4 linked regions of the Homo sapiens genome follow. The protein of the gene in region 3 interacts with the protein of the main gene of each other region in a pairwise test. Each region holds a gene or a part of one and is shown on either strand. Other genes may lie near its edges.

Region 1 (7,105 bases), on a different chromosome or scaffold from region 3:
CCTGTCCCCTTGGTCTGTCTTCCTACCCTTCTGCCAACTGTATATCATCCTGGTTGGTTGCTGCAGGTTTTTTTTTTTTTTTTGCACATGGACGTGGTGGCATGTGCCTGTGATCCAGCTACTTGGGAGGCTGAGGCAGAAGATCACTTGAACTTGAGAGGCAGAGGTTGCAGTGAGCCGAGATTGCACGACTGCATTCCAGCCTGGGGAGACAGATTGACTGAGACTCCCTCCCGAAAAAAAACAAAAGAAAACAAAACAAAACAAAAAAGAGACAAGGTCTCACTCTGTTACCCAGGCTGGAGTGCAGTGACAAAACCACTGTTCACTGCAGCCTTGACCTCCAGTTCTCAAGCGATCCTCCCAGCTCAGCCTCCTGAGCAGCTGGGACTACAGGAATGAGTCACCACGCCCAGTTTTCTATTTTATTTTTTGTAGAGATGAGGTCTTGCTATTTTATAGAGGCTGGTCTTGAACTCCTGACCTAAAGCAATCCTCCTATCTTGGCCTCCCAAAGTGCTGGGATTACAGGCATGAGCCATTGGGCCTGGCCTGGTTGCTGGAGCTTCCCCTGGTCATGCAGGTCCTGGTGCTTTATTCTCCTCGCCTGGCTTGGCCTTGTCTTTCCACACATTTAGAAAGAGCCAATCAGTGTCCAGTGTTTACCGAAATTCCTGGTGGGATTTTGATTGCAATCACGTTGAATCTTCAATTAATTTGGATGGAACTGACCTCTTGACAATACTGAGTCTTCCTATCCATTGCTGAGTCTCTGATTTCTCCCAGCTACATTCTGTGATTTCAGTGTAGTCGTTCTGCAAACCTTTTGTTGGATTTACCCCTCAGTGCTACTTTTCAATGTGAAGTCTACTGGTCTGTTACTGGCATATAAAAATAAAACTGGGGGCCAGCCATGGTGGCTCATGCATGTAATCCTAGCACTTTGGGAGGCTGAGACAGTGAGTTTGAGACTAGCCTGGGTGATATGGCTAAGCCCCGTCTCTACAAAAAATGCAAAAGTTAGCTGGGTGGAGTGGCACGGACTGACAGTTCCAGCTGCTAGGGAGGCTGAGGCGTATCACTTGAGCCTGGGAGGCGGAGGTTGTAGTGAGCTGTGATGGCGCCACTGCACTCCAACCTGGGTGACAGTGAGACCCTGTCTCAAAACATAATATGAATAAATAAATAAAACTAATTTTTTTCCATATTGCCTTTATATCCAGCGATCTTTCTAAATTTAAGTTCACTTATTAATCCTAACAGTTGCTTAGTAGACACTTGGATTTTCTACATGCACAATGAGTTACAAGACACAGGCGACAAAATCAAGGCCACGGAGAGAGCGAAACCAAGTCATAGCCATGAAGAAAGACCTTGAGAAACAGTCACAAGGAGGGAACAAGAGTTTCGAAAGGAGATAGCATCATCTAGGTGCTCAATACCCCCCAAAAGAGAGAGAGAAACACATCTCTATAAAGAAATGGAAAGGAGGGGTCTGAAGCCCCAAGGGGAGAACTCTCCCCACCCTGTCCCAAAGCCAGTCCATGTGGCTGAGGAAGGTCTGGCAGTGGGAGGGTTGGTCTCCGGGACCTGGCTTACCGGGACAGGCCCCTGGACAGCCCCCACCACGGGGGTGGCTCCCCCGCCTTGCACAGCCTTCTTGGTGGCCGGGGTCTCCTGGCTCTTGGGCTTCCTCTTCTCCCGCTTGCGGTCCCGCTCCACGAAGGTGCCTTTCATCTTGGCAATGATATCTGAGTCGGTCTTGGCATACTGGATACGCTACCAAACAGAGAGCAGAACGGGTTAAGAGCGTGGATTCAGAGCCCAATTGCCAAGATTCAAAATTGGACCTTTATCAGGGGCCAGGTGCTGCGGCTCATGCCTGTAATCCCAGCCCTTTGGGAGGCTAAAGCGAGCAGATCACTTGAGGCCAGGAGGTGGAGACCAGCTTGGCCAACATGGCAAAACCCCATTTCTTTGTTTCTTTTCTTTTTTTTTTTTTTTTGAGACATTGTCTTGCTCTGTCACCCAGGCTAGAGTGCAGTGATGAGATCTCAGCTGACTGCAACCTCTGCCTCCCGGGTTCAAGCAATTCTGCCTCAGCCTCCCTACTAGCTGGGATTACAGGCGCCCACCACCACGCCTGGCTAATTTTTGTGCTTTTAGTAGAGACAGGGTTTCACCATGTTGGCCAGGCTGGTCTCGAACTCCTGACCTCAGGTGATCCACCCACCTCGGCCTCCGAAAGTGCTGGGATTACAGGCATGAGCCACTGCGCCTGGCCAGGAAACCCCATTTCTACCAAAAATACAAAAATTAGCTGGGCATGGTGGTGCGCACCTGTAGTCCCAGCTACTCAAGAGGCTGAGGCAGAAGAATCGCTTGAACCCAGGAGGCGAAGGTTGCAGTCAGCTGAGATGGCACCACTGCACTCCAGCCCAGGCAACAGAGCAAAAAACAAAAAACAAAAAACAAACAAACAAAAAAAAATTCAGACCTTATCAGGAGCTTACTGAGAAACACAGAAATATCTTGGCCTTAACTTCCTTGTCTGAAAAATGGGGATTATGATACTTCCCACTTCAAAGGACTGTTGTGAGGACTAAATGAGTTAAAGTGCTTGGAACAGTACCTGACACACAGTAAGCAAGTGTTCAGTAGAAAGGCTGTTGGTATTTTTAAGGGAAGCTGGAACAGCAATAAACATCAGGCCAAAGGACCGAGGAGACAATGCTAGGAGAGGAGTGCAGTGCAGGGGGATTTCCTGTCACACAAGAATACTTCAGTCTTCCAGGTTCAATCTCACTCACTTAGCTGTTTAAGGAGAACCTGCCAGATGCCAGGCGCCATTCAAGGCTCTGGGAATAAAGCAATGAACAAAATAGACAAAAACCCCTCTTTCATGGTGCTTATTCAGTAGGGGAAGGTATGTTAAAGATTCTTAGTGTGGCACAGTAGCTCACGCCTGTAATCCTAGCACTTTGGGAGGCTGAGGCAGGCAGATCACTTGAGCTCAGGAGTTTGAGACCAGCCTGGGCAACATGGCGAAACCCCGTCTCTACTAAAAATAAAAAAATCAGCCAGGTATGGTGGCACGTGCCTGTAATCCCAGCTACTCAGGAGGCTGAGGCAGGAGAATCACTTGAACCCGGGAGGTGGAGGTTGCAGTGAGCCAAGATTGCACCACTGCACTCCAGCCTGGGCAACAGAGGAAGATTCTGTCTCAAAATAATTTATTTATTTATTTATTTATTTATTTATTTTTTCTGAGACAGAGTCTCACTCTGTTGCCTAGGCTGGAGTGCAGTGGCAGGATCTCGGCTCACTGCAATCTCTGCCTCCCGGGTTCAAGCAATTCTCCTTCCTCAGCCACAGGAGTAGCTGGGACTACAGGTGCATGCTGCCACACCGAGCTAATTTTTGTATTTTAGTAGAGACAGGGTTTCACGGTGTTGCCCAGGCTGGCTGCAAACTCCTGAGCTCAGGTAATCCACCTGCCTCGGCCTCCCAAAGTGCCAGGATTACAGACGTGAGCCACCGCCCTCGGCCAAAGAAAAGATTTTTAAATGAGGCAAGGTGCAGTGGGAGCCTGGTCCAGCCTCACCTTGGCAAATGAACCGTAATATCCCCTCCTCTAATCCAGGCCCGCCCAGTCTCCTATAACATTTTACACACCCACACAGCCTCCGTACCCGCAATGCTCACCATAGGTTTGTCATAGAAAGGGAAACCCTGCATGGAGCGCAGGGCGTTGGTGGCGCTGCTGACCTCCTTGAAGATGACAAAGGCCTGGCCCCTCATCTTCAGGCTCCGTGATACCAGGATATCCAGGATCTGGCCAAACTGGGAGAAGATGGCGTACAGGGACTTTTTTAGCTCTGCAGTGGGGGAAAAAAAGACCTTTGAGCTCCCCTTTTTAGAAGAAGCGCAGCCCAAATAGAAGACCATCAGCCAATTGATGGGGTACCCAGAATGCCTCGGGTCCATAATCTCTCAAGACCTAACAATCACAGAAGCAGCCAGGAACCACTCAAGTGGCCAAGTACACTCTTCTACTCTTCTGTAAGATGTGCTTACAGAGAGCTGCTATATAATGAACATGTGCACATACATGCAAAGTGCTCAGGACAGCATCCGGCACGTAGTAAACACTCGATAAATGAGTGATTCTTTTCACTGCCACCAGCACCCTGACATGGGCCTGCATGACGTGGCCCTGGCAGATTTCCCCCACCTCATCCCTGCCCACATTCCACCGCCCTCCTGAGTTCCCAACCACACTGGCCCCCAGGTCTGACACACCAATTTTGCCCCAGGGCCTTTGAACTGGCTGCTCTCTTTACCTGGAACATCCCTCCCCTGAGGTTTACATGGTGGCCTCCTTCTAGTCACCCAGTCTCAGAGGAAATGTTGCCACCTCTGACCACGACGTCTAAATTTCTTCCCATGTCATTCTTACTCTACTTCCTTTTCTTTCATGACTATTTCCCACCTCCTGTCATGGTACGTTAACTTGTCTATCTTGCCTGAGGAGCTATAAGCCTGTCCCATTTGTTTACTGCAGTATGCCAAGCCTAGCACAGACTCCACCACAATTTTTTTTTTTTTTTTTTGGTGACAAGGTCTCACTTTGTCACCCAGGCTGGAGTGCAGTGGCATGATCATGGCTCACCGTAGCCTCAACCTCCCGGACTCAAGCGGTCCTCCCACTTCAGCCTATGGAGTAGCTGGGACCACAGGTGTATGCCACCATGCCCAGCTAATTTCTGGATTTTGTGCAGAGACAGGGTCTTGCTATGTTGCCCAGGCTGGTCTTGAACTCCTGAGCTTCAGCAATTAGCCCACCTTGGCCTCCGAAAGTGCTGGGATTACAGGAGTGTGCCACCACACCTGGCTGCAAACATTTGACTAGATACCATCAAGTGCCTTTTTTTTTTTTTAAAGACAGAATCTCCTTCTACTGCTCAGGGTGGAGTTCAGTGGCATGATGGTAGCTTACTACAGGCCTGACCTCCCAGGCTCAAGCAATCTTCCCACCACAGCCTCCCAAGGAGCTGGGACCATAGGCACGCAGCACGACGCACGGCTAATTTTTTATTTTTTGTAGACACAGTCTCCTATGTTGGCCAGGTTGGTCTTGAACTCCTGGGCTCCAGTGATCCTCCTGCCTTGGCTTCCCCAAAGTGCTGGGATTACAGGCATGAGTCATCGCACCCCCATCAAATGCTTTATGGAGGTAACTTCACTTCCTCACAACAAACCCATTAGGTGGCAACTATGACTGTCCCAATTTTACTGGAAACAGGTTCTCAGAGGATTCCTCACTGGCCCAGGGCATCAATCTGGAGGGCATAAGGAAGCGTATGGCAGAGCCCAGTCCACGTATTCCATCTGAACCCGGTACCACCACATCTCACCAGCAAAGGGCATCACTTGACAGCAAGTGAGATTCAAGCTCAACAAGGATGGACTCCCTCTCACCACCCAGGTCTGCAAAGGGCACCAATGTCTTATGCAAAGAAGATGGCTGAGATGGCCAAGCATGGTGGCTCACACCTGTAATCCCAGCACTCTGGGAGGCCGAGGTGGGCAGATCCTTTGCACTCAAGAGTTCAAGACCAGTCTGGGCAATAGGGTGAAACCCTGTCTCTACAAAAGATACAAAAATTAGCCAGGCATAGTGGTGCATGCCTTGTGGTCATAGCTACTTGGGAGGCTGAAGTGGGAGGATCACTCTAGCCTGGGAGGCAGAGGTTGCAGTGAGCCATGACCTCACCACTGGACTCCAACCTTCATAAAAACTGGCCAGGCATGGTGGCTCATGCCTATAATTCCAGCACTTTGGGAGGCTGAGGCAGATCACGTGAGGTCAGGAGTTCAAGACCAGCCTGGCCAAGACGGTGAAACCCCGTCTTGACTAAAAATGCCAAAAAAAAAAAAAAAAAAAAAAAAGAAAAGAAAAAAAATTAGCTAGGCGTGGTGGAGGGCGCTTGTAATCCCAGCTACTGGGGAGGCTGAGGCATGAGAATAGCTTGAACCAGAGAGGCAAAAGTTACAGTGAGCAGAGATTGCGCCACTGCACTCCAGCCTGGGTGACAAATCGAAACTCCATCTCAAAAAAAAAAGCTAAGCTGAAGCAGAAGCCACTTGTAAAATAGATACCAGGCTAGGAAAGAAGCAAGAAAATGTGTAGGCTGGGTGGGGGCAGGGACAGCAGTCAAGGTTGTTTTTAAGCAATTAGTCAAAAATTCTCCTGGTGGTGACATTTCTGGTTTTCCTCTCCGTACTCCATCCCCATGAATCTTGCTCAGACTTCACTCATTCCACGGGACTCTGGGCCTCTCTCTACTCTCCAGCCTCCCCTCGCCCATTCGCATTTACCCTCCACAGCTGGGAGGATATTCCACCAGGGAGGCAGCCAGGACAGGGAAGCAGTCTGGCTCCCCAACACCCTCAGGGCAAAGTCCAACACCTCACAGCCATGAGCCACCAGTGCACAGCTCACTGGAAGTTTCCCCATGATTTACAAGCCTCAAAACTACTTGTAATACTCAGAATACGCCAGGCTCTTTTGACCCTAAACATCTGAACAAGCTGGACCAAGTTAAGAATGCTCTTCTCCCTCAGTGTAACATAAATACTGCTTACTGTACCTGGCAGGCTCTCCAAAATGTCTCCTTTTCCTGGAAGCTGAATGGATCTCTCTGTCTTTCTAAGTTCCCAATCCCAGCCCTCAACACTCTGCCTAAGCTTCCTGCCTGATGGCCCTGACTACTCTGGGCTGTCACTGTCCTAAAGAACCAGGGTTCTGGCCGGGTGCGGTGGTTCACACCTGTAATCCCAGCACTTTGGGAGGCCGAGGCGGGTGGATCACAGTTCAGGAGTTCGAGACCAGCATAGCCAAGATGGTGAAACCCCGTCTCTACTAAAAATACAAAAATTAGCCAAGCGTGGTAGCAGGTGCTTGGAATCCCAGCTACTCAGGAGGCTGAGGCAGAGAATCACTTGAATTCGGGAGGCGGAGGTTGCAGTGAGCTGAGATCGCACCACTGCATTCCAGCCTGGGCAACAGAGCGACACTCCGTCTCATCTCAAAAAAAAAAAA
Region 2 (7,105 bases), on a different chromosome or scaffold from region 3:
AGCAGGAGGTCACGTCTTTCATTCAGACGCTCCAATGCTTTTCATTTCAGTTTGTTAAAGAACGTGTTTTACAGGAAGTTCTTTACAGTAATTTCATGCCAGACACCAGGTTTCTTCGATGGTACACAGCTCCATGAAATTTGTGTTTCCATCCAGTTGACAGGAATAAAAAGGAATTTTTATTTTTGTCTTTTTTTGGGCCGTAGAGACGTAAAATGGTCAGATTCCTTTAGGAATAAATGAGGAAAAGGAGAGGAAAGAGAAGATCTGGGCTGTGCTGGTGCTGGTTTCTACTCATCTTTCGGAGGGTGTGACTTCAAGAGTTAAATCACACTTAGGCCACTACAATGATTAGTACTAGTTATCTTTTTTTAAGATGATAAAAAGGAAAGTATCCAATGGACATAAAAATGGTCAAAGGTTTTTTTACTGCAGGTCAATTTTTCCCCCGACCAAAAAATATACAAAATGAACATATAATTGGGAGGGTAACTCTGCTGGACATTCCAATTCACTCATCTGCGTGTCCCCCACACGGGTAAGGGGAACAGGCGTTCGGTTTTATTAGTCATGTTACAGCAGTAACCAGATGTGTTAATGGCAGCTTATTTACGGTCCATCGATCCTTTGAACAAGTATAGGAAAGCATGGCTGTCAGTCTCTGACTGCTCACATCTGAGCACATTCAGCTACCATGGAAACTACAAGGGAAGGAAAAATATATTTATTCCAAGATTTACTGGGAGTTTTAAGTGCCCTTTCTTCCACAGAGCCCCAGAGTGGTGACAAGGTGCTAGGGGCTGCTGTGTTTTCCAGCATGAGCTCCCATCCTCTGAGGGTCCTGAGAAGGATAGTGGATTGGTCCTGGAGCCCGCATGAAAGGAGGGGGTGGTCCCATTGGGTGGAACATGTGTGGCCCAAAACCTGCAGATACGAGAGAACAAATGTGTTAGGCTGGTAGTTTCCTTGATAACCTTTCAAACCTCTCAATCTTGCTAAGGTTAAAACCACCTACACATAAATCAAGGTTGACACGGGGCTTAAGCAAATGTCAGTTCACAAACTTACTTCCACTTGTTATTTCCTTGGTTTTAGAAACCTTTCCCCCACAGTCCAAAAAACTCCACAGCACTCAAGGTATCGCCTAGTATGTCATCTGAGTCTCTGCTATGTATCCAACATGCCAAATCCTACCAGACAGGATTCAGTCAGGATTTGGGAGATAAGAAAGAAATCAGGCTGATGGCAAAGACTGTGTCATCATTAACCTCAATGCTTGACACCAGAATGGAGGGTGCTCAGAAACCAGATTCTCTTCAGAGTATGGGCTCTCTGCCACAGGAGAACTGGCTACCTGTGATTTCCTTCCACTGTTAACACTGTCTACAGCAGTGCTATACGAAGTGCCAGTCCTCCACCTATTTCTGGCCACTCAAGACAAAGAGCTTGAGTCAAAATGTAAATTATACGACCAGGCACAGTTTAGTTCATCTGACAGTTTTTTTGGTAACAAGACTTTCTCAATGAAGGAAGGGGTTCACTGATTACATTTTGGCACAAGCTCCTGATCTTGTGGCAGACAGGTGATAAACACTTTGTAAAATGACACCCGCTCACAGCCCACACTGGGCAATAGTGCTCTAGGGCATCCATTAGCATTTAGTTTAGAAAAGGGAACAAATTGGTGATAGATCTTTGTAATCTAATAATCTTACTCTGCTGACACATATACGCGGATCTTTAGAAAACTGGCCCCTTTCTTCTCCTCGGCAGAGCAGGAGAAAGAAAAATTTCAGAAATCCCAACAGATCAACTTTACTGGTAGACTTCTACAGAGCAAACTCACAGGATTTGGATGTGTTGAACATGATGGTGAGGTTTATGAGACAGAACTTTCACAAGGATTTCTCTGGGCTAAGAAGGAAGATGGAAGTTACCTGGGGGTGGGGGTGGAGCAATGCCAGGGGGCGGTGGCAGAGCAATGTTCACCACAGCTGGAGGACCACTTGGGGGCAAGTTGAAGTAGTTGGCAGAGGCTTCTTCTTCTGCTGCAGGAGGAGGAGGAAGAGCTGGAGGAGAGAAAATAGTCAACACATAGAGGGGAGAACAATTGTGCAACGCTGTTTCTACCACCTTTACATTCTCAGAGGTCCTACTGGGAGAGTAGAGCGGCAACATGAACCAGACCTGGGTCCCATCTTCCAAAATAGGAACATCAGGGCAGAAAGAGCTTCTGAAGTCAGCAGGGAGTCTGCACTCACCTCCTGGCAATCCTGGAACAGGTTCTAGTTTGATCCCAGAGTCTGTAGTTCCATCTTTCTCTTTTTCTTTTCCTCTGGCTGCCTGGGATCTGGGAAACACACATGCATACAGTCGGCACTCTGGCCCACCTTATCTCACACCTCTGCTTCTTACATTCCCCAGTCCAATGGAGTTCCTTCGCTCTACCTCCTCCTCAGCACACACTCTTTTCCCATAAATGCCACTGTGCACAGTGAACAAGAGCAAAGGTTTTGACACCAGAAAAGACCTGGGTTCAAAAGCTGCTAGAACTATCATAAGGACCAGAAAAGGCAACACATACGTGTTTAGCACAGTGCTTACCACATAGGGAGCGCTCCACAAAGGCAGATGCTGCTATTAGCCATCACTTCCCTGGTTCCAAGTTGGAGACATGTTCCCCCTTTGAACTGGGTCTTTCACCTGTGTCTCTCTTATGCAATCATCACTTTTAAACTTAAAATAGCGATTCTTCCCTGTTTTATCTTCTCCACTGGACAATCAGCCTCTAAGGGCAGAATCTAGGTCTAATTCATTTATAAACCCTAAAATTCACCTTTCATGGCCTGGCATTATACTTGGCCTATAATAGCTAGTCACAAAAACATGAACCTTCAAAGGAGTAGATTATACACCAACCCCCTGAATACATTTCCAAAGCAGGGTTCTCCCAACATCCACAGGAATCAAGTATCACATAGAGAGTGATCTTTGAAAGATCTCTTTAAAGATCCTGTTCATTTAAGCCTGTTAACCAAAAGCCTACTAGTCTCCAGAAAATGAAATAGTTTCTTAAAAATCTAAGCAAAATGTCACTTAAAAATAGTTTAATTCTCACCTTCCCCATTTCACATTCAGTCTGCGGCCATTTACAATCAACTTATTAAAGGACTTCTCAGCAGCCACTTCTGCAGCCTGCCGTGTGGCAAACTGGATGAAAGCACACTGCTGTCTCTGCACAACAGTGATCGTCCGGATCTCTCCGAACTGGTAGAAATGATTTCTGAAGGGAAACAGGCAGAGAAAAATGAAAGTGGGAGTTAAAAAAGATGTACCCAGGAGACTGAAAATGGATTAACTTTCACTGACACACCACTAGGCAGGTGGGCCCCAAGGTTATCTGCCTAACTACCCGCAGGTCTCCACCCCATATCTTGTCCTACTGTGGGTGCTGCTGATTGAGAGAAGGAAAGAAAAATAATGAGTAAATAAAGGTTCTCAAACATCTCAGGGTTTTTTCCCATGGAGGAAAGGGGGTTCTAATAGGTTCTTTAAAGACCCTAAACCCTAGATAAGAGGTTGGCAAACCATAGCTCTCAAGGCCCATGAGCCAAGAAAGTTTAAAACAAGAATACGTGACAGAGACTGCATGTGGCCCACAATGCCTAAAATATTCACCATCCAGCCTCTTACAGCGAAAGTCTGCCAACCCCTGGGGGTTGTCTAGCTCACTTAGATAGGGTTTAATGGAGACAGGCTACCAAGGGCAGGTTATAAACTTACAGGAGTTTCTTCTCCACTTTATCTCTTTGGAAGAGGTAATTTCCATTACTATCTGCCCAGAAGTCTCATCTAGCCAAGCATAATACAAGCCAAAAATAACACAAATTTATCAAATGCCAGTCTCTTTAAAAACCAACAATTTAAACCACAAGAGTTTTATCATCGCAAAGCTCTCCCTCCTCTACATAATTCATCATACTTGGATGCGTGCCATCCTTTAAAACTTGGCTGTTAGGTCAAATAGAATCCTATGTCATTATTACCATATGCCAGGATGGATAAGCACTCTTTGAGCTTTGGTTCTGAGACAGGGTCTCACTCTGTTGCTTAGGCTGGAGTGCAGTGGTGCAATCACAGCTCACTGCAGCCTTGATCTCCCAAGCTCAAGCAATCCTCCTGCCTCAGCCTCCCAAACAGCTGGGACTACAGGCACATGCCACCACACCCGGCTAATTTTTTTGATTTCTTAGTAGAGATGTGGTCTCACTATGTTGCTCAGGCTGGTCTCAAACTCCTCGGTTCAAGAGATCCTCCCAAAGTGTTGAGATTACAGGCATGAGGCACTGTGCCCAGCCACATAAGCACATTATTACTGTGGCACCATAAAGGACAATTTTACAAAAATTCCAGTCAGCATGATACTAACAATAGAGAGACTACAGAAAAATGTATTTTGTACAGAATGATCATTCTTGCAGTTTTTGCAAATAAATTATTCCAGGGCAGTTAAAGGCAAAAATAACTCTCTAACTTATACCCACAAACCTTAAATCTGTCTCAGTAATGGTATCACCTAGACCACCAACATATAGTGTGGTGATAGTTTTATCCTCTGGTGGGTCCAGCCGAGGCATTGTTGAAGCCCGCTTTAGAAGCTTGTCAGCTACAGGATCATTGATTCCGTAATAACGGTCTTTAATATTCTGATCAGCAAGGGGGTCATCTGGATCTGTAGGCTTCTCATGTCTATGATTCAAGAAAAAAACAAGGCATAAAGGTGAAACGAAGGTGAAAAAATGATTATCTTCCAAGAGTAGCTACATATTAAAGTCCTAGATACATATTCTGAAGTGCCTTTTGAACTAGAAACTATGGTTTCTACCAAAATATAATTACCAAAATAGACCTAATACCAAGAGATTTACTGTATCACGGAAGGAATTACTAGCCTCCTAAAAGCCATTAGGCCATCTAGGATGCCAAACTTTCCTTATAAATAAATACTCTTGACATGATCCACCCCCTCCCGCCCCCCAGAAAGGGACACATGATTACCCCTCTCTAGGTCAATGATTCTTAACACATTTGGGGTGCTGTATTCCACTGAGAATCTGATTAAAGCTATGAACCTCGCCCCAGAGAAAGCACATACATTATTTTTTAGGGGGTGGGGTTAACCAATCCCAAATTAAGAACTCCTAATCCAGATGCTTGGCAGTCTTAACCAAAACATACACACCCTTTAGAAGTCTGACCTTACTTTGACTTCAACTATACATTGAGAGTCAACTCATTTAAACCATGGCAGTGAAGATTTACTTCTCAGGCAGAAATGTTTAGGGTCAGCATCTATATTGTATGGCATAGCAATTTAGTTTCCAAGGCTCAATTGTAAGTAAAAACTACAATTTATTCATGCTCTTCTAAATTTCATAGTTCTAAGACATGAGGTATACCACATTAGTTGTATGACCTTTAGATTTTAAAGCAGAAACAGTTTAAGTTAGGACCTCCCACTTCTTAGATGAGAAATCATCTGAAAGCAAATACTGAAAATGAGGCTCGCTCTTGCCTGTATGGACATTCCTCTCCTCTCTTACACTCTCCTTTCACCCAGAAGGAGCAAATGTGGGGTCGATTCCTTTTGTAGTAGGGTGTGGTCCGGGCCAGTTTGAGCAGCATGTCACTGGTAGATGTGGCTTTCCCCAGCATGCCAACTGGCCGTGTTCCATCAGAGTTAGAAATCTAAGTGGGGATGACAAATTCAAAAGATAAATTATACAGACTGTGTCAATTCATTAGGATTTTTATCCAAAAAGTGGCAGCATACCTCTCTCTCCATATTCTGTGTATAGTACTCTTTGTTGACATCTGACTTTGGCATGTCATCTTTAAAAGACAATCCTGCGTCACGAACCTGGATGGGCAGGCCTGGTACAAAAAAAGAGGAAAAAGACCTCAGATGTATTTTAAAACATATCCATACTAACCATGCACACAGAATACATCATCTTTCCCTTCTCCTCTTTCCTATTTAGTACCAGAGACTTTACTATGTTTTTATTCAAACTCTTTAGCACCATCAGGTTACTTCTGCTACACAGCATGCTAAGAAATTGTCCAAATTCCTGAACTGTCAGGAAATTTGATGAAATTAATGCTTTAGAAAAAATCTTTTAGGCTGGGTGTGGTGGCTCATGCCTGTAATCCTAGCACTTTGCAAGGCTGGAGCTGACAGATAGCTTGAGTCCAGGAGTTCGAGACCAGCCTGGTCAACGTGGTGAAACCCCATTTCTACAAAAAATACAAAAATTAGCTGGGTGTGGTGGTATGCACCTGTAGTCCTAGCTACCCAGGAGGCTGAGGTGGATCACCTGAGCTTGGAAAGGTTAAGGCTGCAGTGAGCCATGACCATGCCACTGCACTCCAGCCTGGGCAACAGAGTGACACCCTGTCTCAAAAACAAAAAACAAAAAAATTATAAAAGAAAATTTTTAGATGAACAAACTGTGCCCATGGTCATATTCAACCTGTAAATTAGCTCCTAGTTTTTATTACAACATGATTTATTTAAAGTAAATGTAAAAGTGGTTTCTTTCTAGGTTAGTCTTACAGATCCTCTGGATAGTCACAGTCATCTAAGGGTCACTGTACTCCAGGACCAGACGCCTCCTTAACAAACATATAAATAATATTACATAAAATGTGGCCAGGACTCTGACTAGAAGAGTAACTCTAATGAACTTAACATACATAAACTCATATATTTTTCCCTTTCCTTTAATAGTAAAAACTCTTGTTGAAAAATTATCTTTCTGAAAAACAGTCACCTATGGTTAAAAAAAAAATTACTCCCAAAAGCAGTTACTCTGAAACAGTAGCAATATATCAGTTCTAACAACACAATTGAAATAAAAGTCTAAAGCACAATTAGGCTGGCTATAGTGGCTCTGGGAGGCCAAGGTGGGAGGACTGCTTGAGGCCAGAAGCTCAAAACCAGCCTGGGCAAAATAGTGACACACACACACACGTGCACTGGGTGTGGTGGTATACCAGGAGGCAGAGGCAAGAGGATCCCTTGAGCCCAGGAGTTCGAAGTTGC
Region 3 (7,105 bases):
CCTTCTCCCAGCCCACCCCAGGCCCCCCATACCTGCTGACCAGCTGGAGAAACTGCTGGTGCTGCAGCTGCTGGTACAAGGCCGCCGCGGCCAGCTCCTGTTGCTTCTTCAGCCGCTCCTGGTCCATGTTTCCCTGCTCAGGTGAGAGCTCGGCCAGTGCCCCCAGCAGGGAGGAGGGGACTCTGCTGGACTCCTGCCGGCACCCCTCACACCCTGTCCCTCCATGCAGGGGAGAAGCGGCTCACCAGCAGTGGGGGAGGTGAGGGCCCTGGGGCAAAGGGCACGCGGCCCCACATCTTGATCACCTCGCCCAGCGGCTGGAAGCCCTCATCGCAGCCCCGCTTCACCAGCAGTGACATGGAAAAGTAGCCGGCCTGGAACCACTCTGCCATCTCCTGTGTCGTGAAGGGGCCTGGACAGGGAGCGAGGGAGCGGGAGAACCACTGGGGTCACAGGGTATGCCAGAGACACCCTGAACCAGAACGGCCTTGAGCAGCCCTCCCATCCCACACAGGTACCTTGGATCTCGCCCTGTGGGTCCTTGTAGAACCACTTCCGGGCAGCCCCATGGCTGAGCGGGAGGGCAGTGGCGGCTGCAGAGTGGCGCAGGCCCTGGGTCTGCATGGCAGCCGTGAACTGCTCCTCCTCCAAGGAGCTGTCCTGCAGGGAGGCCACCAGCTTCTCCGCCTCCTGGATGCCCAGAAAAAGAAGAAAGGCTCAGCTGCCAATCTCAGCAACATCAGGATGGGGATGGGGATGGAGCTTGAGCTGGGGCCGGGGCTGGGGCCAAGCAGGTCAGGTCAGAAGTGGGAAGGGTCCCTCCCGCTTTCTCAGGCCCCCACACCTGCTGCAGGTGCTTCAAGCCTTCATCATCCTCCAGATCTCCGGGTGGGCCAGCAGAGGAGCCCACCCCGGGACTCAGCTGGATCCCCCGAATATCATCTGGAAGGCATGAGATAGGAGGTGGAAAGAAGGGCGGGGAGGAGACAAGATAGCTTTCGCCTACTCTCACTCCAGAACACCACGCTCTTGCCATGGCTCCTCAATGTGAATGCCCTGTGTGCCCACCCCCACGAGTGGGGAGCACTTTCTCCCACAGCCCCAGCGCACCCGGGAGGTAGGCCATCCTCCCTTCCTACCTTCGGCCGCTGGGGGCTCTTTCTCTGCAGTTTCGTCCCCATCCCCGTTTGTCCCCCAGAGTGGGCCCAGGGTGGGCAGTGGGGATGGGGAGCTGGACTTCTCCTCCTGAGGAGGCAGTGGGGTCAGCTCTTTCCCACCTAGAAGAGGGAGATGGCCAGAGTTCAGAACCAAGGGCTGGGCCTGCCACGCGAGTTAGCACAAGCCCTTGAGTGTGGCTGGAACCGCGGGTCACACTCCCTTAGGCCGAGTCCACCACTTCACTTGGGTCAACTCAACTAATGGCAGAGGGAATGCGGTGCCCTGACCCTCGCCTCCACGCTGCCAGACGCGGCAGGAACATATCACAACATCGCACAACACCACACAACACCGCAGACGTCACTCCAGGTTCTACAGCTTCTTCAAGGGACTTTCAAAGGTCATTTTGATTACGCCTGATTTCTATCTGGTACACTGCCTTGAAGACATGGCTCTGCTACCCCCTGGTTCCTCCCCACCTCTCAGCACTCTTCTTCCAGATCTAAGTAGCCTGATTCTACAGGTAGGTGGGCAGCCAATGCCCAGCCCGGCAAAGAACACCAGTGCCTGCCCGGCCCAGCCCCAGGCCCGCTGGGCACCCCGCGGCTCACCTGCCTCAGGCCCTTCCTCCTCTAGCCCTTCGGAAGGTTCCTCCTCCTCCTCCAACCCTTGGAAGTCCAGCTCCTGCTCCTCAGGAATGGGCTCCTTGGGGCCCTTCTGCATGGGGCCGGGGTGGGGAGCAGAGAACAGCTGGGGTGGGTGGGGAGGAAGAGGACCCCGGAAGGGCAGGTTCCCACCCTCGCCTCCTCACAGATACCTTGAGAGGCAAGAAGGCCCCAGAGGCATCAAAGGTGCCCATTTCTTCATCCTCATCGTCCAGGCACCACTCTGGGAGCCCATCCTTGTCCTCCTCAAAGCCTTCAGGCGCTCGGCACCGCCGCAGGTGAGAGCTGCCTCCCCCTCCCCGCCCCTCCTCTTCACCACACCCTCCTCGATCCCCTCGCAAATCAAATTCAAACTTGCGCCGCCGTTCCCCATGTTCCCGCCAGCCAGCAGAGCGGGGACCACCATCTGCACAGGAAAAGTCAGGGAGAAGAAGAGTGGGTACCCAAGCGAAGCCAGCGGCCCCCTCTGCTGCAGCTCACGGAGCACCTCCAGGGCTGCTGTCCCGGCCACTCCCACACCAGCCAGCCTCTGCTCCCTCCCCGTGGCTACAGGAGCCCACCCTCTCATTACAGTTCCTGCTCCCCACTGCCCCCGCCAATGCTACCAGGCCCCAATCTCACCAGGGCTGGCGGAGCGCCAGCGGTCGCCGTCTCGCCGGGGCCCTGCTCCGAGCCTCCAGCTGCCCTCCTCCTCCTCCTCCTGTTCCTCCCGTAGGGAGCGCCAGTTCTCGCTGTCTGAGCGGGCGTGCTCCTTCCTTGGGCCAGCCCCTCCCTCCTCAAAGCCACATCGTGCTGGGAGACGGGAAGACAGGGGCAGTTATTAGAAAGGCAGCGTGGTGCCTGGACCCTCAAGAAACGTTGGGGGGGCCAGCTCCAGGCCCTCCTGCCCCCAACACCTCCGAAATAAGCACCCCCAGACTGGGCCACCCATCTTGGTCCTCCCTGCCGCCCCGGCCGCCGCCCTCAGCAGCCTCGTACCTCCATCCCGCCTTGCTGACTTCTCAAACCGCCTCTCGCCTCTGCAGCAGGGGAAACGTGTGGGTCAGAAACAGTACAGCCTCCCCTGCCACCCTGTGCAACCGCCCCATGCCTTGTCCACTGTGCCCTGAGGCAGTGGAGGGAGGAAGGGGACAAACGAAACCAGGGGTCAGGAGCACCGGGATCTCGGACAGGGCTTATCTGGTGGGCCTCTGTTACCCTCTAGCGACAGGGCCCAGGCCTCCCCTCCCTGGCCTGCCCGGCTCTGCGCCATGCCCCCTCCCCGCCCCACCTGTCATCCCAGCTCTGGCTGCGCTGGATTTCCCGGGGGCTTCGTCCAAAGGCCCCATCGCCTTCTTCGATGCTTCTTTGGTAAAAGCAGCTGTCACCACGGCCGCGGCCTAGAGAAGAGGCCAGACGCACAATGAAACCTGCTGCACGTTCTCGAAGTCAGGGGCCCAGATCTGCCCGTCCCCAGGACACGCCATCACCCCTCTACCTCGGCTCCGCGTGCTGCCCCTGCCTCGGGAGGTGCCAGCCAGGGGGGGGCCAGCCCCTTTCCCCATCAGCCTCAGCACAGCCACGCTGTTCACTGACAGGGAGAAGTTTCTCTGAGGAGGGAGCCAGGGGCGGGAGTGAGGACCCAGGCACCCAACCACCTCCACCCCCACCCCACAGCACCCTCCCCGCCTGTCTCCTCAGCGCTGGCCCCTCTCCTCCTAACCCAACCCATGGCCTCCCCTCCCAGGCTCCCGCAGCCTCAGCTCCTGGCCCGGTCCCACCTGTTCCTCCTCAGTCAGCGGCTCCAGAGCCAGGGGCTGCAGTGGCTCGTCCTGCAGCACCGCGGCGAACTCCTTGTCCTGCAGCTCTTCCGGGACCTGGCAGTGGGTTGGGACAGCCAAGACACCACATGCTGCCAGATCCCCTCCACAGGCAGAGGCCACCACCGCCAACCCCCCTCGCCCACGCACCCACCTTGTTCTCCTTGACGTAGAGAGCCAGCATTTCCTCTCGCCCATAACGGTAGTCAGCCAGCTTGTATTTGGGCATGGCAGGGGACGGGGGTGGGGAGGCCACGCTGCCGCCCCCGGACAGGGCCCTGAGCCTGGACACAACACAGAGAGAAGAAGACAGAGGTCAGGGCAGCCTGACTGTGCTTTCTCGAATCTCCACGGCAGCCGAGGCACAAGTGACTCACCACTCAGGCCCAAAGTTGAGTGTCTCTGCTGCCATCGTGGGGCTGGGCGTGTTTGAGAGGCCGGGGGTGGGGAGGAGGGGACCTGGCGTTCACTGTCCAAACACCTGTGGGGGAACAGGGGCCATGAAGAACAGCACACGAAGGAGAACTTTAAAGCGCAGGGAGGACACCATGGGGGACATCCTAGTGGGCACAACAATGGGCCCCGGACTAGCTGGTGGGTCACCTGGGGTCTAAAAGGACTCACCTGAGCCAGCCACGTGGCCACTCACACCATGAGTTACCCAGAGATGAGTCCAGACGGTGAAAGACCTGGGGGAGGCGAGGAGATGGGAAGCTCGAGTCCTTTCGGCCTCAGCAGGGCAACCACCCTTGGCCCGGGGCTCACCTGGCAGCCTGGCCCGGGAAGAAGGAGGGCAGGGGCTGGTGCTGGAGTGAACGAGGGTACCCAAGCCACTGGGAATTGGTCTGACCTCAGTAGAGCCTGGGAGGGACCTTCACATCTGGGAAAGACCCTTAAGGAGAGCAGGGGGGAGGAGGGAGGGTTCAGGACATGGCTCTGCCGGCAGCCCTGCCCTGCCCCGCATGACAGGAGAGGTCCATTCGCCGGATGGTGTCTCTGGGCATCAGCACCCTCGCCACCCTCTCTGGGAGGCTGAGACAGGAGGTGTAGTGAAGAACTCGGGGAGGGAGGCAGCCGAGGCCAGGATGGACGTTCAGGGCAAAGATAAAACAAAAACAAGCAAGCAAACAAAAACCCACTAGAGCCACAAATAGCTTACAGAGAAAAGGTCAGTTACGGAGAAAAGGATTAGAAATAAATCTAGGAGCAAAATTCTTTCCCTCATGAAAAAAATCAGTTGGCTGCTCAGAAGCTCAAATCCAGGGGCTTGGTCTGGGGAGAAACCCAGTGAAAAGGAGCAGGAGGTGACTCTAGGGCCACAGACGGGTACACGACAAGGACTCCAGGCAGGCAAGCCTGAGCCAAGGCACCTCGGGCTGGTTTCCCCCACAGGAATCACACCCAGACCACCGCCCCCAATCAATAATGGAGGCTTAAACAACCAAGCCACCAAGGGAACGAGGATCTCAGGATACCAGCTGGGAAGCAGCCTCTGGCACCATCAGGTGGAAATAAGGTCAGGGCAATGGAGGCTGATGGGGGCGCGGCGGCAGCCTGTTCCTCTAAGGGAGGATGGAGGGGACTTTCAGGAGGAGGCGCATCCCTGGGGCCCCAGGCAGAGGACTCAAGCGGGTGGGCGGGGTCCAGGTGCTGCGGTGTTGTCACTGGCTGGGAGGGAGGCTGGCCCGGCTTGGTGCTGCAGCTCCCATCAACTCCAGGACGCCACAGTCTGGGAAAGAAGAGGAAGCGGGTTCAACCAGGGTGCTGAGGAGGAAAGGCCATCAGCCCCAGCTGAGCCAGCAGCCCATGACAAGCCGAGGCCTGCTCAGAGTCCAGGCACTCCAGGGGGAAACACCGGGCTCAGAGGCAACCCAAGGCCAGGCTGGCCTCCCCTGGGACCTCTCCTTCCTCTGCCTCGGCTGGATGCTCCAGTGGTGGTGTGTTCCATGACATGAAAAGCCACCAGCCTGTCACTGACTGCAGGTGGCCACCTAGAGCAATCTGGGGACTGGATGAGCCTTGAGGACATCACGCTAAGAGAAACACACCAGCCAAAAAAGGAGAGCTACCCCTTACTTCTCTTTCATGAGGTCTCTAGAGCAGTCACTCATTGAGGGAGGAAGGTAGAAGGGCAGCCACCAGGGGCTGAGGGGACAGGGAGCTGTTGCTGAAGGGTCCAGAGCCTCAACTGAGGAGGGGATCCTGGGGCCGCTGGTGGTCATGGCCGCACACCAATGTGAGTGTACTTAGTAACACAGAATGGCACAATTAGAGACAGTTAAAGTCTCCAAATTTTGTTGTATATTTTACCACAATAATCATTTTTTTAAAAAAGCTTTAGGGAACAAAAGGTATCTGGAGATAACCACCGCATACCTAAGTTTTCCCCACTCCAAGAAAAACACCCCACATTCCTTCAAATCAGCCTCAGGAGAGGCCATTTTGGGCCTCCTCCAGTTCATTCCTTCTAGAAGGCCAGAAGCTCATCCTGGAGGCATGAGGGTGGGAGAGAGTAGAACAGAAAAGGGACCACCTGGCCAGCACAATGGCTTATGCCTATAATCCCAGCACTGTGGGAGGCTTGAAGAGAGGAGTCCGAGACCAGCCTGAGTAACAGAACAAGACCACGACTCTACAGAAACAATTCTAAACATTTTTTAAAAAAGAAAAAGTGGCCAGGCGTGGTGGTTCATGCCTGTAATCCCAGCACTTTGGGAGGCCAAGGCAGCCAGATCACCTGAGGTCAGGAGTTTGAGACCAGCCTGGCCAACGTGGCAAAACCCTGTCTCTACTAAAAATACAAAAATTAGCCAGTCCTGGTGGTAGGTGCCTCTAATCCCAGCTACTCGGGAGGCTGAGGCAGGAGAATCGCTTGAACCCAGGAGGCGGAGGTTGCAGTGAGCTGAGATTGCGCCCCTGCACTCCAGCCTGGGCAACAGAGCAAGACTCTGTCTCAAAAAAAAAAAAAAAAAAAAATTTAAAGCGATGGCCTCACACTGCCCCCTGCCAGGCGCAGCAAGGGCAGCTCTCCTAGGTGCCTCCGGCTCAAGTCACCCATCCTGGCTGTGTCTTGGCTGCAAGGGGCACACAAAGGGGGAATGGTTCATGCAGACTGAGGACAGCGACACCAAGACAGGGGAGAGAGCAGGCCCAGAGCAGGAAAAAGCCCATGCCACCCGCCTTCTTGGGAAGAAACCAGGAGAGTGAGGTTAACTCTCTAGGCACCCCCACAGCAGGGTCTGGTGCCGGAAGCTGATGGTGCCTGGCCCCTTCCTTGGACTAAAGGAACTAGTGGCACACCTGCAGGCCACCATGGGGCTCCCACCCTCCAACAGGTTCTGGACTGGGGGCACCTCTGCTCCTCAGGGGGCTCTTGGCCAAGTCTAGAGACATTCTGGGTTGTCACCACTGGGCAGGGGGTGCACAGGGCAGCCCCACAGCCAAGAGCTATGTGACTCCAGATACCAAGTGCGCCAGTGCTGA
Region 4 (7,105 bases), on a different chromosome or scaffold from region 3:
GGAGGTAACATATGTTGTAATCTTAAAATATAATATTAAAATCTCTTCAACTATGTACCATACTCAATACAATTAATGCTAAATATCTTTTGATTGTTTCCAAAAATTGAACTGAATTCTACCCTTAAGAGATGAGGATTTGGCGCTGGCACGGTGGCTCACATGCCTGTTATCACAGTACTTTGAGGCCAAGGCAGGAAGATTCCTTGAGACCAGGAGTTCAAGTTCAGACTGGGCAACATAGCAAGACTCCCATCTCTACAAAACATTAAAAACTTATCCAGGCATGGTAATGCACGCCTAGAGTTTCAGCTACTCAGGAGGCTGAAATGAGAAGATCACTAGAACCCAAGAGTTTAAAGCTGCAGTGAGCTATGATCATGCCACTAATGCTCCAACCTGGGTGACAGGATCAGACCCTCTCTCTAAAAAAGCAAAGAAAAAAGATGAGATAGGCCAGGCATGGTGGCTCATGCCTGTAATCCCAGCACTTTAGGATGCTGAGGCTGGCTGATCACTTAAGCTCAGGAGTTTGAGACCAGCCTGGGCAACATGGCAAAACCCGGTCTCTACAAAAAATACAAAAATTAGCCGGGCATGATGGTGCACATCTGTAGTCCCAGCTACTCCAGAGACTGAGGCAGGAGGATAGCTTGAGCCTGGGAGAGGGAGGTTGCAATGAGCCGAGATCACACTACTGCACTTCAGTCTGGGCAACAGACCAAGACTCTGTCTCAAAAAAAAAAAACAACAGATGAGATAAGAGATAAAGTTTTGTCACCAACGAGGCTATACACAGTATAGTTACAGAAGCTTCAAGATGCAGGAGACCTTAGAAATAACCTAGGCCAGGGCAGTCCAATACAGCAGTCACCAACCACATAAGGCCATTTAAATTGTTAAAATATAATAAAATTAATAATTCTGTTCATCAGTCTCACCAGCCATATTTCTAATGCTCAGTAGCCACATGTGGCGAATGGCCACCGTATCGAATAGCACAGATACAGAATATTTTCATCATCACAGAAAGTCCTAGAGGACAGTGCATTCGTCTAGAGAAATGGGTCTCAGTTGAGAAATGGGTCTACATTGAGAGCATATGTGTGAAACCAAATCTTTCAAAATCACATGACTTTCTCCCACATGGCTGTCTTGGAGAGTTATGTGGATTCTAGCTCAGGTGCTGATTGCAGGAGATCCAGAGGTGAGGCCCCAGGACTGCAAGAAGGATACACAGGCATGAGTTTCAGCTCATCCCTATGATTAAGTCAGGAAAAGCCTCCAGAATGGATGGCCGGCAACCAACATGTGTTGTTGAGATGGTACACCCCAGACTGTACTGATGTTGTACTCTTGTTCTGTTACTTATCTGTCCTGCCCAGGTTGCAAGAATAGGACACCACCCTATTCTAAAACCTCTCTAGCTTCCAGGGAGGTTTTATCTTGTAATTTATAAAGTTTTCCTACTGAACATCAAACAATGGTGGTGGGAGGCGAGGTGTGTGTGACCTTTCCCATTTAGTCAACTTGGGAAGCAGTCACCCTTATCAAGGAAAGAAGACCTGGAAGGTGGACCTCAGAGAGAAGGGAGAAAACCATCCTCCTTCACTGTGTGAGTTTGGCCTGGAGCACCTCCAGGAGAAGTGGGTAAAGAAGACTTGGAGGAGACCTGGGAGGGACCTCAAGGCCATAGCTTGCCTGGGAGCTCTGAGAATAGCGACATCTAGAAGTACTTGTAAGTTATTCTTCTGGCCTAGAATTCTTTGGGGGGTTTTTCCCCACCTCTTTGTCCTCAACTCTTCAGAAAGATCTTGTTGAAATTACAGCTTGGTCTCAGCAGTGTTTGGGGACGGTTCCATAAGCCCGGAGTGGTGGTAGCAGCAGTTACTGGTGGAGGACACAGGGCCTGCAGCAGGTGCTGATCTCTCCAGGGGCAATGGCAACACACAAGCAACTGGGGGCCCAGTGAGGAGACCAGGACAGAACCTGAAGGACCTGCTGTAGCACACCTGAGAAGCCACATCTTAGGGACTGAAAGCCACCAAGCGACATTGACTTCCATGACACCACAATCTCCTCGTCCTCCTGGCTTTGTGGTTGCTTCTTCTCAGCGTCTCTCACTGGTTCTTCTTCCCTCTCCTCCGGAAGTGCACGCATTTTCCAGGCACTCTCTTTACCTCTTCTCTCTCTACACTCTCTTCCTTGGTAATGTTGATCCTTTCCAGGGCTTCAGCCACCAACTCCACCTATGCCCCTAGCCCATGCCCCCTCCTGAGTTCCAGCCCTCAGAGACCACCTGACCATGGAATCTCTTCATTTGAAAGACCTGCAAGCACTTCAAGCCCAATGTGTCCAGACTCATCATCACCTTCCTCTTCTTCACCCTCCATGTCCAATTACTGCCAAATTCAGTCAAGTCTACCCATGCAATTTAACCTCCTATTTCCATTATGAGTTCCCTATTTCAAAACTGCACCGGCTTTGACTGGAAAACTGAAGTCCCCTCTGAAGTGGTCAGTCAAGCCCCCTTCCAACCTGTCCTATTTGATGCTAACAGGATTATGGTCCTAAATTATATATTATAGGTATGAGCATGTCTGCCCCTTCTCTAAACACCGTAATAAATGGATTTCTTCAAATCCCATTTTGTGTCCTCCTGCACCCATTTTCAGTGCACAAAAAATTCTCTAAACTCCTTTGAACTCTCCAGCCCTATACTTTGCTACAGCCCATTCAGTCAATCCCCCAAGTCACACTTCCTCCATGTTACTTGACATCCTCAGTCAATTTCACCTTCTCCTTCCCTACACACAAGGTGGGTGGCTGCAGCTCTACAGTGCATTTCCTGCAGGCTGCCTGGTACTGCAGGCGCTTGCAGGAGGGTCCAGCTCCTCATTAGACCACCAGGGCAGTGTGATACCACACAGAACACCCACCCAAAGGCTAACAAGATCATGGCTGTCACATCTCCCACAGGGCCATGAAATATAGACCTTGCTGAGCGTTTCAAGTGGCTTTGAGGGAGGTTTATCATTTAATTTATAAAGTTTGCCTACTGTACATCAAACAGAATGAGAAGATCACCAATGCTAACTCAGTGACCTGGAATTTAGAGTCTGCCAGAGCCTGACACCAAAGTCATGGACTCTACCCTTGGATTGCCCCTGCCAGGAGGAGGGCAGGAGATGAATGCATCAGCAGGTGAATCAGGGGAGAAGAGCCATAATGCAAAAAATTGAAAAAAAATCTATAAAAAGTACAAAAAATACAACTTTGGACACGGGTCTCAGCTGTGGAAAGCTGAAAGCCAGCAGTAGTTGACTAGAGATACTGCAGCATGTGGTTGATTTGACAAAATAGCTAATTTGACTGAGGGCACAGTTTAAGTTGCAGGAGGTTTAAAAAAAGAGGCGGACATCATCACCCATGCTACCTTCCCCCAGAACACACTGACACTGTCACTACCACCAGAGGCAAAAGCACAGGGAGAAAAGCAGAGGGACTGTTTGAACGAATAAAGGGAAGGTTGAACCCACTATCATTTTGCACCCACTAAGAATTGAGACAGCAGAATTAAAACTGCCAAAGGAAAAACAATGTCTGGCCCAGAGCAAGAACTCAACAAAGTTCTGAGGAATGAATAAACATGGACTTGCCTTCTCATGTACTCATACATTCATTTACTGAACATCTATTTGATATGCTCATATCGCTGTCATCAAAACCACCCATTCTAGACTCTGAGAGGCATCAGACTGTCTGCAATGGCAAGAGGTCATGTGGAAAACGCATTGCTCACTGGGCGCGCTGGCAGAGACAGCTGACAGCCTCTCACATGCACAGATCACAATTGCACCGCAGTTACATGGTCTCCAGGAGCTTCTACTTTACCAAGCACCACCATGTACATTCTCTCATTTGACCCTCATAACACAAATAATCCATGTCAGTTCCATTCATAGGACTCATCAGTGACTGCTCATTTCACCAAGGATAGAATAGAAGCTACTTAGCCAGGGTTCATTTGTAGAAGGATGTTTTTGCCTACCATGTGCCAGACACTGACCTTAGGTTCTAGGTTCACAGGAGTGAGCCCAAAAAGTCCCCCCGCTCTTGGTACTTACATTCCAGTGGCTGACCACATTCCCACTGATCTAGCCTCAGGCCACCTGCCCATCCTCTTCCCCTGACTCCCCCTCCCTTCACTCCAGCCACATGAAACCTCAGGAAGTTTGCTGAGCATGGCCTGCTAAGCAGCACCACACCAACATCGTCACCCACGGTCACCTGTTTGAGACACCCTTGCTCCCTTCTCCAACTGGCTAATTCCTCCTGGGCCACCCAGCTCACGCAGATCTGGGCATTGCTACTCAGGAAAGCTTTCTCACTGCCCCTCCTCGGCCTAGCTCCCCTCACACTCAGGTCTTCTGCACACACGCCTCCATCCTGGCCATGTGGAGGGATGGTCTGCAGAGAGGTTAGTTTGTGGTTATGGTTCTTCCTTTAATAGGTATAATTTTCTTACTTTTGCTGAACATCAGCCATTTGGGACCACTCTGTATTTGTCTCCTCCGCCCTGATCTTCTCTGGAGACCCACAACCTTCCCTAAAAGTCCCACAGAACACCACACAGCATCTAGGGGTAGAAGCCAGAGCCTTTGCCTCGGGGCTAAACTGATCCATATAATCTCACTTTCCTGCACGTAATAATTGATTTAGAGAAGAGAATCTGATCCTAGTTGGTCTAACTGAAGTCCAGACATTTTGTTGCGCCATGGTGGGGCAAGGCACTTGGAATCCACATGAAGGATGTAACCCTCAGAGCTGCTAGCAGCCAGCTGGCGACCCTGGCGGATGCCTGGCTGAGGATAGGGCCAAGACAGTGATAACAGAGCTGGGATCTGGATCCTGAGCACACTGTGTAAGGCCTGGACTACTCACTTACAGAAGCCAGACTCGCTACCCAGCCCCTCTCCCCAGGACCCAAGGAAGTTTAGGCTGGATTTTCTTTTCTTTTCTTCTCTTCTCTCCTCTTTTCTTCTTTTCGAAACAGAGTGATATGGTTTGGCTGTGTCCTCACCCAAATTTCATATTGAATTATAACTGCCACAATTCCCATGTGTCGTGGGAGGAACCCAGTGGGAGGTGATTGAATTATGGGAGTGGGTCTTTCCTGTGCTGTTCTCGTGATAGAGAATGAGTCTCATGAGATCTGATGGTTTTAAAGATGAGAGTTCTCTGCACAAGCCCTCTCTTTGCCACCTACTGCTATCCATGTAAGATGTGACTTGCTCCTCTTTGCCTTCCGCCATGATTTTGAGGCCTCCCCAGCCACATGGAACTATGAGTTCATTAAACCTCTTCTTTTGTAAATTGCCCAGTCTCGGGTATGTCTTTATCAGCAGCGTGAAAACAAACTAATAGAGTAAATTGGTATCAGTAGAGTGGGGCATTGCTGAACAGATACCTGAAAATGTGGAAGCGACTTTGGAACTGGGTAACAGGCAGAGGTTGGAACAGTCTGGAGGGCTCAGAAGACAGGAAAATGTGGGAAAGTTTGGAACTTCCTAGAGATTTGTTGAATGACTTTGACAAAAATGCTGATAGTGATATGAACAATAAGGTCTAGGCTGAGGTGGTCTTAGATGGAGATGAGGAGCTTATTGGGAACTGGAACAAAGGTGACTCTCATTATGTTTTAGCAAAGAAACTGGCGGCATTTTGCCCCTGCCCTAGAGATTTGTGGAACTTTGAACTTGAGGGAGATGATTTAGGGTATCTGGCAGAAGAAATTTTTAAGCAGCAAAGCATTCAAGAGGTGACTGGGGTGCTATTTAAGGCATGAGTGAACAGTGAATTAATTCACTCATAGTAAATGAGTCTCCCAATATCTGATGGTTTTAAAAACAAGAGTTTTCTGCACAAGCTCTCTTTGTCTGCCGCCATCCATGTAAGATGCGACTGCTCCTCCTTGCCTTCTGCATGATTGTGAGGCTTCCCAAGCCACGTGGAACTGTGAGTCCAATTAAACCTCTTTCTTTTGTAAATTTCCCAGTCTCCAGCCTGTCTTTATCAGCAGTGTGAAACAGACTAATACACAGAGTCTTGCTCTGTCATCTAGGCTGGAGTTCACTGGCACAATCTCGGCTCACTGCATCCTCTGCCTCCCTGGTTCAAGCGATTCTCCTGCTTCAGCCTCCCGAGTAGCTGGGACTACGGGTGCACACCATCATGCCCAGCTAGTTTTTGTATTTTCAGTAGACAGGGGGATTTACCATGTTGGCCAGGCTGGTCTCAAGCTCCTGGCCTCAAGTGATCCACCTGCCTCAGCCTCCCAAAGTGCTAGTATTACAGGCCTGAGCCACCACGCCCAAGAATTTTCTATCCTGAAAAATTCACTCCATTCAAAGAATCAAAAGCTATCTAGGAGCTACAATGTGTTGTCTTTGGATTATGGCTGAGCCTTTACACACTTTCCTCAGGCACTTTTATTATATGACACCAGAAGCAGAATTTTCCAGAAGGCGATCTCTCACTCTGTTTGCAAAAGCTTAGACTCATTGACTTAACAAGAGGAGATCAAAGCGTGTTTTGGAGTGAGGAAGCAGAAGTCTCTGAGGTTTGGAGGTCAGGACAAAGGTGATGTCCAAGGGGGCTATCAAGAGTGAGAGGCAGCTGGGCGTGGTAGCTCATGCCTATAATCCCAGCACTTTGGGAGGCTGAGGCAGGTGGTCACTTGAGGCCAGATGTTTGAGACCAGCCTGGGCAACATAGTGAAACCCCATCTCCACTAAAAATACAAAAATTAGCTGGGCATGTTGGCAGGCACCTGTAGTCTCAGCCACTTGGGAAAGCTGAGGCACAAGAATTGCTTGAACCCGGGAGGCAGAGGTTGCAGTGAGCTGAGATCACACCATTGCACTCCAGCCTGAGCAACAGAGAGAGACTCTGTCTCAAAAACAAAAGAGTGAGGGGCTGATGCCCCATTCACACCTGAGAAGTGGCCAGGCTCCTGGGACAATCCAGAGAGGAAGAGGGCTCTTTTCATACAATTCATGGAGTTTCTCTTTATCCAAAAAACTCTTCTACACTCCCCAAATGT

Evidence for each region.
Region 1: the proteins of GIGYF1 (region 3) and SNRPA interact in binary tests that used the Homo sapiens proteins (3 or more experiments, as listed by UniProt).
Region 2: the proteins of GIGYF1 (region 3) and RBM22 interact in binary tests that used the Homo sapiens proteins (3 or more experiments, as listed by UniProt).
Region 4: the proteins of GIGYF1 (region 3) and FAM124B interact in binary tests that used the Homo sapiens proteins (3 or more experiments, as listed by UniProt).

The regions. Positions count from the first base shown.
Region 1 is NC_000019.10:40,754,105-40,761,209, reverse strand, and holds part of SNRPA (U1 small nuclear ribonucleoprotein A), read right to left. Parts: intron 3,879-7,105; coding exon 3,706-3,878; intron 1,780-3,705; coding exon 1,600-1,779; intron 1-1,599. UniProt on the Homo sapiens protein: Component of the spliceosomal U1 snRNP, which is essential for recognition of the pre-mRNA 5' splice-site and the subsequent assembly of the spliceosome. U1 snRNP is the first snRNP to interact with pre-mRNA.
Region 2 is NC_000005.10:150,690,958-150,698,062, forward strand, and holds part of RBM22 (pre-mRNA-splicing factor RBM22), read right to left. Parts: intron 5,935-7,105; coding exon 5,834-5,934; intron 5,749-5,833; coding exon 5,576-5,748; intron 4,750-5,575; coding exon 4,549-4,749; intron 3,284-4,548; coding exon 3,119-3,283; intron 2,351-3,118; coding exon 2,262-2,350; intron 2,070-2,261; coding exon 1,938-2,069; intron 925-1,937; coding exon 794-924; 3' UTR 1-793. UniProt on the Homo sapiens protein: Required for pre-mRNA splicing as component of the activated spliceosome. Involved in the first step of pre-mRNA splicing.
Region 3 is NC_000007.14:100,684,205-100,691,309, forward strand, and holds part of GIGYF1 (GRB10-interacting GYF protein 1), read right to left. Parts: intron 5,352-7,105; 5' UTR 4,388-5,351; intron 4,312-4,387; 5' UTR 4,247-4,311; intron 4,104-4,246; 5' UTR 4,035-4,103; coding exon 4,000-4,034; intron 3,907-3,999; coding exon 3,777-3,906; intron 3,680-3,776; coding exon 3,584-3,679; intron 3,413-3,583; coding exon 3,301-3,412; intron 3,203-3,300; coding exon 3,094-3,202; intron 2,843-3,093; coding exon 2,802-2,842; intron 2,616-2,801; coding exon 2,445-2,615; intron 2,230-2,444; coding exon 1,976-2,229; intron 1,876-1,975; coding exon 1,770-1,875; intron 1,278-1,769; coding exon 1,140-1,277; intron 943-1,139; coding exon 845-942; intron 691-844; coding exon 519-690; intron 413-518; coding exon 246-412; intron 137-245; exon of another isoform or gene 134-136; coding exon 33-133; intron 1-32. UniProt on the Homo sapiens protein: May act cooperatively with GRB10 to regulate tyrosine kinase receptor signaling. May increase IGF1 receptor phosphorylation under IGF1 stimulation as well as phosphorylation of IRS1 and SHC1.
Region 4 is NC_000002.12:224,392,019-224,399,123, forward strand, and holds part of FAM124B (protein FAM124B), read right to left. Parts: intron 1-7,105.